3 linked regions of the Homo sapiens genome follow. The protein of the gene in region 3 interacts with the protein of the main gene of each other region in a pairwise test. Each region holds a gene or a part of one and is shown on either strand. Other genes may lie near its edges.

Region 1 (3,655 bases), on a different chromosome or scaffold from region 3:
GCAATTTCACTCTTAGGTAATTCATTTGAAGAGAAATGAAAACATGTTTCATGTAAAAACTTGTAAACAAATGTTCATGGCAAGATTACTAATAATAGTCAAAAAGTGGAAACAACCCAAAATGTCAGTGAGCTAATGAATAAAATGTGATTTATCCATACAATGGAATATTTTTTGTGATAAAAAGGAATAAACTAATAATACATGCTGCAATATTAGGTGAACTTTGAAAACATAATGCTGAGTGAAAGAAGCCAATCCCAAAGACCATATCGTATGATTCCACTAATGTGAAGTGTCCAGAATAGGCAAATCCACAAATTCCAGGAGTTGGGGCCAGGAGGGGAAATGACGAGTGACTGTAAATAGTATGGGGTTTCTTTTTGGGGTGATGAAAATGTTCTAAAATTAGATAGTGGTGATGGTTGCACAGTTCTGTAGATATACTAAACTTCATTACACTGTATATTTTATTTTTATTTTTATTTTTTATATTTTTTTGAGACAGAGTCTCACTTTGTTGCCCAGGCTGGAGTGCAGTGGTGCGATCTTGGCTCACTGCAACTTCTGCCACCCAGGTTCAAGCGATTTTCCTGCCTCAGCCTCCTGAGTAGCTGGGATTACAGGCGCATGCCACCATGCCCAGCTAATTTTTGTATTTTTAGCAGAGATGGGTTTCACCATGTTAGCCAGGCTGGTCTTGAACTCCTGACCTCAGGTGATCCACCCGCCTCAGCCTCCCAAAGTGCTGGGATTACAGGCATGAGCCCAGCCAAATTGTATACTTTAAAATAGTAGATTTTATGGTAGATAAATTATCTGACACAGTAAAGCTGTTAATAAAGAGTAGTTTGAATAGCTTTTGCCTTCTTGTGTAACTTGACAGAGTAAGCATCTTTTCTTTGCCTTGGAGAGTTGTCACACCCCCTGTAATTTGGATGATCTTCTAGCATTTTATCTTTTGGGCTGTCAGTGTCATGAAATACTGAGAATTCCTTTATAGCATTTTTGCCAGGATCACTTCTTCTAGGGTATCTTATCTTTTTTGTCACTCACCACTTTTATCTTTTATGTTGGTAATTTGCTTTCACTAAGTTCCTCAACACTGGCATTGTCAGCCTTACTACCACAGTCAGCTTTCTTCTATAACTCCATTTATGTTCTATTTTATTTTCATTTCCAGCATTATCACTTTTCATTTCCTGTTTACTTTTATATCTTTGCCAATTATCTTGTTTGATTATTCTTTTTTGTAAGTAGTCATGTGGGTTTATTACTGGAAGACAAGGATGCAATGAAACTGCATACTTTGCTGTCTGCAGTTTAACTGAATAAACAAATGACTAATAGGTTGTGTTTACATTTTTTAAAAATTTATTTATTTAATTTTTTCAAGCAACAGGATCTTCTGTTGCCCAGGCTGGAGCGCAGTGACACAATCAGAGCTTAAACTCCTGGGCTCAAGCAATCCACCCACCTCAGCCTTCCGAGTAGCTGGGACTATCTCGGCAGTATGCCGCCATATCCTGCTAACTTTTAAAATTTTTTTGTAGTGATGGGGGTGTCACTGTGTTGCCCAGGCTGGTCTTAAAATCCTGGCTTCAAGTGATCCTCCTGCTTCAGCCTCCCAAAGTGCTAGGATTACACACCATGCCAACTAATAGATTTTGAAAGAAGTATTGTGGTTAGTCATTGTTACTTTTGTCATGATTTGTGGATCAAAGAGCTAGAAATAAAGTTTTTACTTCATGCAGTTAAATTTATTATATAGTGTCAACTGAAAGTTGAGCTTTGTTCTTGGGGAATTGGTATTATTTAACTGTACTGTGGTAACTGAAATTCATACATACTAAAAATGCGCAAAGCAGGGACCCCTTGTAATACCGTATTTTGTTTCTAAGTAGCAAATTTCATAGGTATTAGACAATAAAATTCTAATAAATGAGAAAAATTTTGTATTAAAACATTTAAGACTTAGTTTTTCTATTAAAATTTTTCCCAGTAATATATCAGATTATGTATTTATTACCTCTTCCTTCTTTGGTTTATATTTATAGGAAGTTGGTATGCCAGCGGATTATGTAAACAAGCTTGCTAGAATGTTTCAGGACATAAAAGTATCTGAAGATTTGAACCAAGCTTTTAAGGAAATGCACAAAAATAATAAATTGGCATTACCAGGTATTATTTTATAATTACATGTATATATTTTTTAAACTTAGAAGAATATCTTTGTTTTCCAGTAAATTAAAAATAAACCTCAGCAGTAATAGATCGAAAGATGTTATGAAGTCCATTTCCGTGGAGACAGCTATCAAAGCAGTGTGTTAGATTTACAGATCTTTATTTCAAAACAAAAGGACACTTTTAACAAAATCTTTATAGTCTTATTGATTTTTCACCCAAAGTTACCCTGTATTTATTTTGAATTTTATCCATTGTTAATTTACTTTATATTCCTGATATTCTTCTCTATAGCTGATTCAGTTAATATAAAAATTCTGAATGCTGGCGCCTGGTCAAGAAGTTCTGAGAAAGTCTTTGTCTCACTTCCTACTGAACTGGAGGACTTGATACCGGAAGTAGAAGAATTCTACAAAAAAAATCATAGTGGTAGAAAATTACATTGGCATCATCTCATGTCAAATGGAATTGTAAGTAGATAGTGTGTTAGTTATTTCAGCTTTCAGTTTGGATGAAAGTAGCAGGACTCCGCAGAATTGCTTAAACAAAATAGATTTTTGCCTCTCTCACATGTAAAAGTTTGAGCAGAAATAGTGAATTTTTTTCATGAAGTTGATAGGGACATAGGCTTCTGGTTATACCATCATACTTAAGATACTGCCGTTGTCTACAGAATTCAACATGATCCCAACTATCTCAGTATTCCTGGCAACAGAAAGCAAAAGGTGAGGGTAGCTTACACCTTTCATTAGGGACAACTTCTAGAAGTTTCCTCTGTCATTTTCCATTTGCATCCGCCAGTACTCAGTCACTTGGCCACATTTTGTTACATGGAAAGCTGGGAGATGAGCGTGTATTCTGGGCAGTCATTAACGTCTTCTAAAATGTTTATTACTGTGAAAGAGTGGATACTGGAAGACAGCAACCTTTTTCATATATAAATTCATGTCATAGATATTAAGAGAGAATCATCATGAGATTCTTTATTAAAAATCTGTTTTATCTATTATAGATAACATTTAAGAATGAAGTTGGTCAATATGATTTGGAGGTAACCACGTTTCAGCTCGCTGTATTGTTTGCATGGAACCAAAGACCCAGAGAGAAAATCAGCTTTGAAAATCTTAAGCTTGCAACTGAACTCCCTGATGCTGAACTTAGGAGGACTTTATGGGTTGGTTTATGTTTTTTTGTTTTTAAGACTGTATCCTCTCATGTAGCAGGAAATATATGATTGGCTTGTAATATATTAGTAAATTCATAACAGTTTCAGAATGTCTTATCAAGAAAAATAGAGGCCGGGCACAGTGGATCACGCCTGTAATCCCAGCACTTTGGAAGGCCGAGGTGGGCAGATCACTTGAGGTCAGGAGTTCGAGACCAGCCTAGCCAACATAGTGAAACCCCATCTCTACTAAAAATACAAAAATTAGCTGGGCGTGGTGGTGGGCGCCTGTAATCCCAGCTACTT
Region 2 (3,655 bases), on a different chromosome or scaffold from region 3:
CATTAATTCTTCCACTTTATCATCTACATCTAGGTCCTCTTCTGAGGCTTCAAAACTGTATGACCTCTGACCCATGCTGTTTGCATGGTAGCGAGTTGGTGACATCTTTCCATTGGATGTAGATAATCGCTCATTATTCTCCCTCCCATTTTGATTGGTAGTGCAAGGCTGTGGGGAAGTATCATAACTGTTGCTAGGTGACGGGGACATTCCCGAATGCTGCGTCTGTGTGGAAGCTGTAGCTGTAGAGGAAGATGCTGGGACATTGTTAGTACTATTCCCATATGAACTTCCTCCATAGCTGGACCTTCTTCCAAACTTGTCACTATGCTCTTGATCAAGACGGTCCAAAGTTTCCAAGGCATGGAGAATTTCATGTTTAGTCATTCCAGTACGCCGAAGTCGCTGAAGCAGATCTATCTGCTCTATGGTAAATCTGGGTTCATCTGTATAATGAGACATGGTTTCCAGCAAACTAAAAAAAAAGAGATAAAAAGAAGTCTCTTTATTGACAGTATCTACCAAAGCACATATTATACAGAATGCTCAGAAGATGCAATATTTCTACATAAGCTTCTGTATTGAAAATGAAGGTATGTCCCATGCTAGAATGATTGTGCCATGGCAAATGGATTGGTACAGATACTAAATGTATTAGTAGGTGAACATAGGTGTAACATAAAACCTAATTTCATATGGCATACAATTTACATTTTCCTCAATTTTGGTAAATATCAGAACCAAAATTTTAGTTATGTAAATAATACCAGAACAATAGATTAGGTACATGGAGTGCAATAAGCCCAGGCTACGTGATAACTCAGAAGTGTTTTGCCCATCTCAAGTGTATTACTCTACATTAGAGTATTAATGGAAAATTACTGAAAAAAATAGTTTGTATTATATTATTTACCAAATATTAGCTAAACAGACCTAGGAATTCTCTACAACCTCATTTAGTGAGAACAAATGATTTGCTAAGCTAAGTCCAAGCAAATGCTAATAACCAGCAAAAATACTTAAGTGGAAAACAGAGGTACATTAAAAAAAAAAATAAGCACCATTTCATTCACTACTTAGCAATTTCCTAAGTTTTCCATCTCTGGTAATGCATTCTCTCTTAATAGCTACCCTGAGAAATAGATCTTTCATGGTTGTAGCCAAACAATGCTATTCATTTTTCTTAGGAAATTACTTTTACATGTTTCCTTTAACTAGCACAAGATACTACAGCACATCAGAAAATGTTTTCTTAGGGTGAGTAACAATATTAAGGGAGTAGTCAAATACTATAAAAATTCTCACTGCTTGAATCCCTTTGTTGTTGTTGTTGTTGTTGTTTTGGATACAGAGTTTTGCTCTTGTCAACCAGGCTGGAGTGCAGTGGCGCAGTCTTGGCTCACTGCAACCTCCACCTCCTGGGTGCAAGCGATTCTCCTGCCTCAACCTCCTGAGTAGCTGGGATTACAGGCACCTGCCACCAAGCCTGGCTACTTTTATATTTTTAGTAGAGATGGGGTTTCAACATGTTGGCCAGGCTGATCTCAAACTCCTGACCTCAGGTGATTCGCCCGCCTCGGCCTCCCAAAGTGCTGGGATTACAGGTGTGAGCCACCATGCTCGGCCTTGAATTCCTTTCTTATAAGACCTGAGTTTTCCATTCAAGATTTTTTAAAGTTGTAATCTCTTCTATTTTGATATTTATTGTTCTAGTGCCAAATATAATGCATGGCATGCAGTAGGCTCTCAATAAGTGTTTGCAGATGGAAACAGATGTCAAGAAATTTCTTCATCTTTCTCAAACAAACATCTGCTCTGGGCCAGTGTCCTATAGCTATTGAAGGTCTCACTGTTTCTTTGTCCTTCTACATGAAAACTTTATTAACAGTCACTTCTAGGCAGGAACTGGGTACGAATTTCACATAACATAATCTCATCCAATTCTCACAGCAACTCCCCATGGTAGATGTTCTTTATTCATTTCATTTTATGTTGATGGATTGATTGTTGAGGAAACTAAAGCTCAGTGTAGTTTTGTACTTCACAAAAAATCTGAGTAAACAGTAGGAAAAAGATTTAAGCCTAGATCTTATTGACTCCAAAAGCACACATCATTCTCCTTTACAATACATTGCAGGACTTAACTGGAAACATATGATTTGGCACACAGGCTATTCTACTCCTTTAAGTCTCATTTAAAGCCATTTAGATAAAACTATTCTAATTACTGATGAACCTAGGGGTCCTAGTAATAGTTTTCTACATTTAAAATCCTTGCTCCATCTAGAATTTTTATTGACTTAACAAGTATAAAAAATTGGGGCTTTATTTCATCCCAAATGGACAGCTAGATGTCGTATGTTTTTACTGAATATCTGTCTTCTCCTCCGATGTGAAATGCTGCCTTTATCATATACACAATTTCCATATGAATCTGCATTACCTTTGGATAGTCTATTCCATTTCACTGATTGTTTTATCTTTCAAATCCTTTTAAAAATAAGTAGGGAAAAATCTAGAACTGTAGATGAAATCTTCCTGGTTTTTAAAACAAGCTCATAAAAATAAAACAAAACCAAACACACACATTCTGTGGACCTAAACATGTTGCAGGCCATTTGTGCCCATGGGCCACAGTATCTGCTCTACACCTACAAATGTTAGGGTCTGATTTCTTCCAATACTCACTTGTAACAAGTTAGCCATGATTTTAAAAAGACCTATTTTCATGATTATTATATTCTTTCTTGATGGCCTAAGTTCCCCCACAATATTTTGTAATGAAAAAAATTAAACATAAACATTATTATTTTCCCTTGAAAATGAAGTAGACCTGTTTGTTGCTATTTTCAGTCTTCATGTTATCAAAGTATTTCATAAAGTGATCTTACTTTAGATGACTTCAATAACTGTTTTATTATATGGACAAAAATCCCCAATCATAGTATTTTCCTATAGTATTCATATCAGAGCAGTTAGTTATCTATATACAGTTCTTCAAACCATTCCTTGTATGGAGCAGCACTCTGTATTAGCATAAAGCAAAAGTAAATTGTATGAATTTCACTTATTACTGAAAAGTATCCATCCTAACACTTGAATTAGAATTGTCAAAACTAAAGATTTCACAGCATATGAAACAATCTAATATTTTGTGTCATTTCAGATTCATTGACTATTAGAACCACTTTTATTCCAAGTCATAAAAGGAGAAACAATAGGCCACCTATTTACTTTGTCTGCTTAGAACACCTCATTCTTTCCAAGCACATGTTCTTGGGCTATCACTCGTAATACCCCACCTTCTGGCCAGTGGGGTGAGCACAGAAGAAAGCCAAACCTTGCTCTCCCCATAATTTTCTAGTCAGACGAGGGGAAAGATGAACAGTCACCATAACTGTGTTCAGTTGCAGGAAGATATTAGTCTGGTAAATTCCTCATTATATGGAAGCAGCTAGTTCATGGGAGGAAGAAGCAGACATACCAAGAAACGTGGAACAGAGCGATGGAGAAAGCTCTGCAGCACTCACATCCCTTGTTCCAATAATCCCTAAGCCCCTGATATATCCCTGCTCTTCTTGCTGTTTTGTTTCATCAGAGAATACATTTCCCTTTATGTATCACCTTGTTCAAATTAGATGTCTGTGCCCTGCAC
Region 3 (3,655 bases):
TGTTTCAATAAGTATTTCTGGAAGTAGTCGACCATGTTTGGATTTCTTACAAGAAGTCACAAGTATGTAATATAATTATTACTTTATTGCATTTTTTAAAAATTTGCATCTTCTGAGGAGCTTAATGTGTTTTTGCAACTTAAGATGACTAGATATTAATCATTCCTATAACCACTGCTTGGTAAGCGATGCCTCATTCTTCTGAAATAAAAAAAAAACTTTGACTGTATCACAAGATTTCATAAAAATTCAATTGTGTTTCTAAATGTAATAGGGGTAGACAGTAAGAGTGAGGGAAGGAATGGAGAGAAGGACAGAGAGGAGAATTTTTTTTAAATGAACAAAGATCTGTGTTAGAACAAGGCAATTCCTGTTGGTCATAAGGATAATCTTACCTGGCTTCCATTGACTGCAAGTTGAGGAGTTAGAGGGGGAATTTTGGATCTTAGATTCCTTACCTGTGAAAATATCCTAGAATTTGTGCTTTATTGCTAAGTTGTTCACGTTTTAATTGTGGCTTTTCTGCTTCATGAGAGCCCACATGAAATGGAGCAGTGGTGCTGTGTATTTAGGGATACCACTCGTGGAAGTTAAGGATGCTAGAAATTGTTGTAAGAAAATATTTGCAGTGGGAAGTTTGGCACCACTGTCCCTGGACCACATGGCTTCCATTGTATTTGAACGTTTTTGTGTGGGTGCTTTTTTTAAAGCCTGGAAGTGTCTGGCCCACTTTGTGTAGTAACGCGTGCGTCCTAGTTGTTCCTCTGATGGGGTATCAGCTTGTGTGTACTTAGCCATCCTCTCTTGTCAAGCTTCCACGTGACCAGTTGAATGTGTGTCTCATGCTTAATGTCCACCATGAAGCTAAAATCTGTAAACAAAATGGATTTTGCTGTCTGCTGAACTTTTTAATGAGTTCCTTTTTCCTCACTGGTTTTGAGCCTTCGGTCATTATTATACAAGAGGACATATTAACATCCTGGGTACCAGCTACTAGAGGGCAAGGGCTCTACCTGACCTGCTTGTAAGTAACCCACTCTACCCCTTGGAGCGGGCCTTTGGAGTACACATTTGCTTTATGAAGAAACAAAATGTAATTTGAATTTTGCAGATTCATGGAAGAAAAGATGCAATTATTATCACTAATGTTTTCAGACTAAAGCGTAAGAAAAAATCACACTGCTTAGTCTACTTAGTGCTGGCCAGTACCAGTTTCTGTGATGTTGGAAATGGTCTCTCCTTGCTGTCCAGTATAGTAGCCACTGGTCCCATGTGGCTGCTGAGCACCTATTAATGTGACCGTTGCCACTGAGGAACTGAAATTTCAATTTTATTTAATTGCGATTTAAGTTTAAATGGCCACAAGTGCCTGGTGGTTCCTTTGTTGGTCCACACAGATCTGCCTGCCTTGGGAGAGGTATCTGGGGCTGACTGGTGGGTGTTCCATTGCAGAAAGCTTCTGAGACACACAGAAGTCGCCACAGTTGGGAGACGTGATACCCGCAGTGCTGCAGTCCTGCTTGCCTTGTTGTTGTTCTCTCAACTTCTACATTAGAGACTTAGTTATGATGAGTGTGGCCGCCCTTAGGAAGGCATGTTATATACTCACTTAAATGCCTCAGCCCCCTTTTTTAAAATACTTTGTTCAGTGGTTAATGGCATAGACTAGAGCTAGACTGCAAGAGTTTGAGCCTTAACTCTATCCCATGTTAGCTGTGACCTTGGGCAGGTCGCCTAATCTCTCTGTGCCTTAGTGTCCTCACCTTCAAATTAAGATAATACAGGCTTGTTATGAGGATTAAATGAGTTAATATTTATAATGCACTTAACACTTAAAATGTTCTTGTTCTTTGTAATTGTTTTTCAAGGTGAAGTGTGTAACTAATAAAGTGAGGGGGGATTAACAGCGAGGACTGGCTTGCCACCAACAGAGCAAATCTTTAGATTCATATTCAACTCAAGCCTCCCAGTTTCAACCCTGTATACAACTGTCCAGAGTCTGTACATGGAGGCACGCAGCCACGTGGCCGAGAGGAGCCGCTGGGCAGGACAAGCACGTGGGCGGCTGCCGTGTGTCCCTGAGCCCTCAGAGCTGCCCCTAGCAGTGCTGTTGGACAGCAGGAATGTTGAGTTAAAGACTCACATGCACTTTAAAATTTGAGCAGATAGAAATGTCAGTGGGGACTGCCTCTGTCTGTGCTTAGGTTCTCCACTGTACGAGGAGCAGAGCTGTGCGCCTAGGAGGTCCTCAGTAGTCCTGGCAGTCTGGCTGACTGCGCACAGCGAGGGGTGGGGACTGAGGAAGCACAGGCTGCTTTCCTGAGTGCAGGGTCCTCCGTCTGTTAAGGCTCCAGTTGTCCTTTGTCTTCAGGTGCCTCAACATAATTTAGTATTTCTTGACTCTCCAGTGGTGTTTCCTGCCAAAAGCAAATTTGGTGTTTCTGCTTCACCTGTGTGTTCTTTGGCTCTAAATAGGTTTTCTTTTCCTGGTGAACAATATGGGCTAGAAGGAGCAGCTGTGGCTGATGCTCTGGACTGAGCTTTCTCATGAAAAGCAGCTTGAAAGAAGGTTGGTTGGTTCAGGGAGCACTAAATCAAAGCTGAGAGCTTCTTCTAGCCCGCGTGCTGTGGGCACCGCAGCCCCAGGCATCATGCTGTTGGCTTATGATTGGAGATCGCAGACTGCCGAGGTATAAGGACAGCAGAGGGGCCACATGGTGGTCTTCATTCAGGGACATTTTACTCTTCATCACACTGTTTTGCCTAGAAACAGATTATTTAAATTGGAAGAGACCAAAAAAATTATAATACCAGAATTTAAAAACTCCTCTGGCCTTTTGGAAAAATTGCCGTAAAAACTCTGATCTATATAGTGCAAAAAAAAAAAAAAAACAGAGCGCACCCGTGGCTTGGTAATAAACTAACATCTGCTTGTGACTTGTTAGTGCTGAGTAGGGGGAGAGGCCATGAAGAGCTGCTGTTGCTGTTCCCTACAGCCAGCCCGCTGTCCAGCATTCAGACCTCAGAACCTCCCCCTTCCAGGACGTCAGGAGCGCAGCAGGGCCCATCCATGGAGGAGCCACTTCTCTGTGCCCAGGAATGATAAACACAGCTAAGAGGAGCCATAGCACCTGCCTGAATAATGAGCGCCACCTGTGGGAGGAAAGCTGCGTCCTGCTTAGTTGGCAGTGTTTATAAGAAGCCAGTTTTTGGTTTTTTACTTGTAGCCAAAAAAAAAAAAAAAAGAATGGAATGAATAAATTAAAGAGAGAACAGTGAAGGTGTGACCGATGTCAAGTAGAAATGGTAGTGACGGCTGGGCGCAGTGGCTCATGCCTGTAATCCTAGCACTTTGGGAGGCTGAGGCGGGTGGGTCACCTGAGGTCAGGAGTTTGAGGCCAGCCTGGCCAACGTGGTGAAACCCCATCTCTACTAAAAATACAAAAATTAGCCGGGCATGGTGGCACATGCCTGTAATCCCAGTTACTTGGAAGGCTGAGGCAGGAGAATCGCTTGAACCCAGGAGGCAGAGGTTGCAGTGAGCCAAGATTGTGCTACTGCACTCCGGCCTGGGTGACAAGAGTGAAACTCTCTCAAGAAAAAAAAGAGGAAAGAGAGGAAAGGAAAGGGGAAAGGGAAAGAAAGGAAGAAAGGA

The links.
Region 1: the proteins of ASB7 (region 3) and CUL5 interact in binary tests that used the Homo sapiens proteins (3 or more experiments, as listed by UniProt).
Region 2: the proteins of ASB7 (region 3) and HMBOX1 interact in binary tests that used the Homo sapiens proteins (3 or more experiments, as listed by UniProt).

The regions. Positions count from the first base shown.
Region 1 is NC_000011.10:108,092,334-108,095,988, forward strand, and holds part of CUL5 (cullin-5), read left to right. Parts: intron 1-2,057; coding exon 2,058-2,181; intron 2,182-2,478; coding exon 2,479-2,654; intron 2,655-3,196; coding exon 3,197-3,358; intron 3,359-3,655. UniProt on the Homo sapiens protein: Core component of multiple cullin-5-RING E3 ubiquitin-protein ligase complexes (ECS complexes, also named CRL5 complexes), which mediate the ubiquitination and subsequent proteasomal degradation of target proteins.
Region 2 is NC_000008.11:28,966,863-28,970,517, reverse strand, and holds part of HMBOX1 (homeobox-containing protein 1), read right to left. Parts: intron 476-3,655; coding exon 1-475. UniProt on the Homo sapiens protein: Binds directly to 5'-TTAGGG-3' repeats in telomeric DNA. Associates with the telomerase complex at sites of active telomere processing and positively regulates telomere elongation.
Region 3 is NC_000015.10:100,629,981-100,633,635, forward strand, and holds part of ASB7 (ankyrin repeat and SOCS box protein 7), read left to right. Parts: coding exon 1-62; coding exon of another isoform or gene 63-70; exon of another isoform or gene 71-229; intron 230-3,655. UniProt on the Homo sapiens protein: Probable substrate-recognition component of a SCF-like ECS (Elongin-Cullin-SOCS-box protein) E3 ubiquitin-protein ligase complex which mediates the ubiquitination and subsequent proteasomal degradation of target proteins.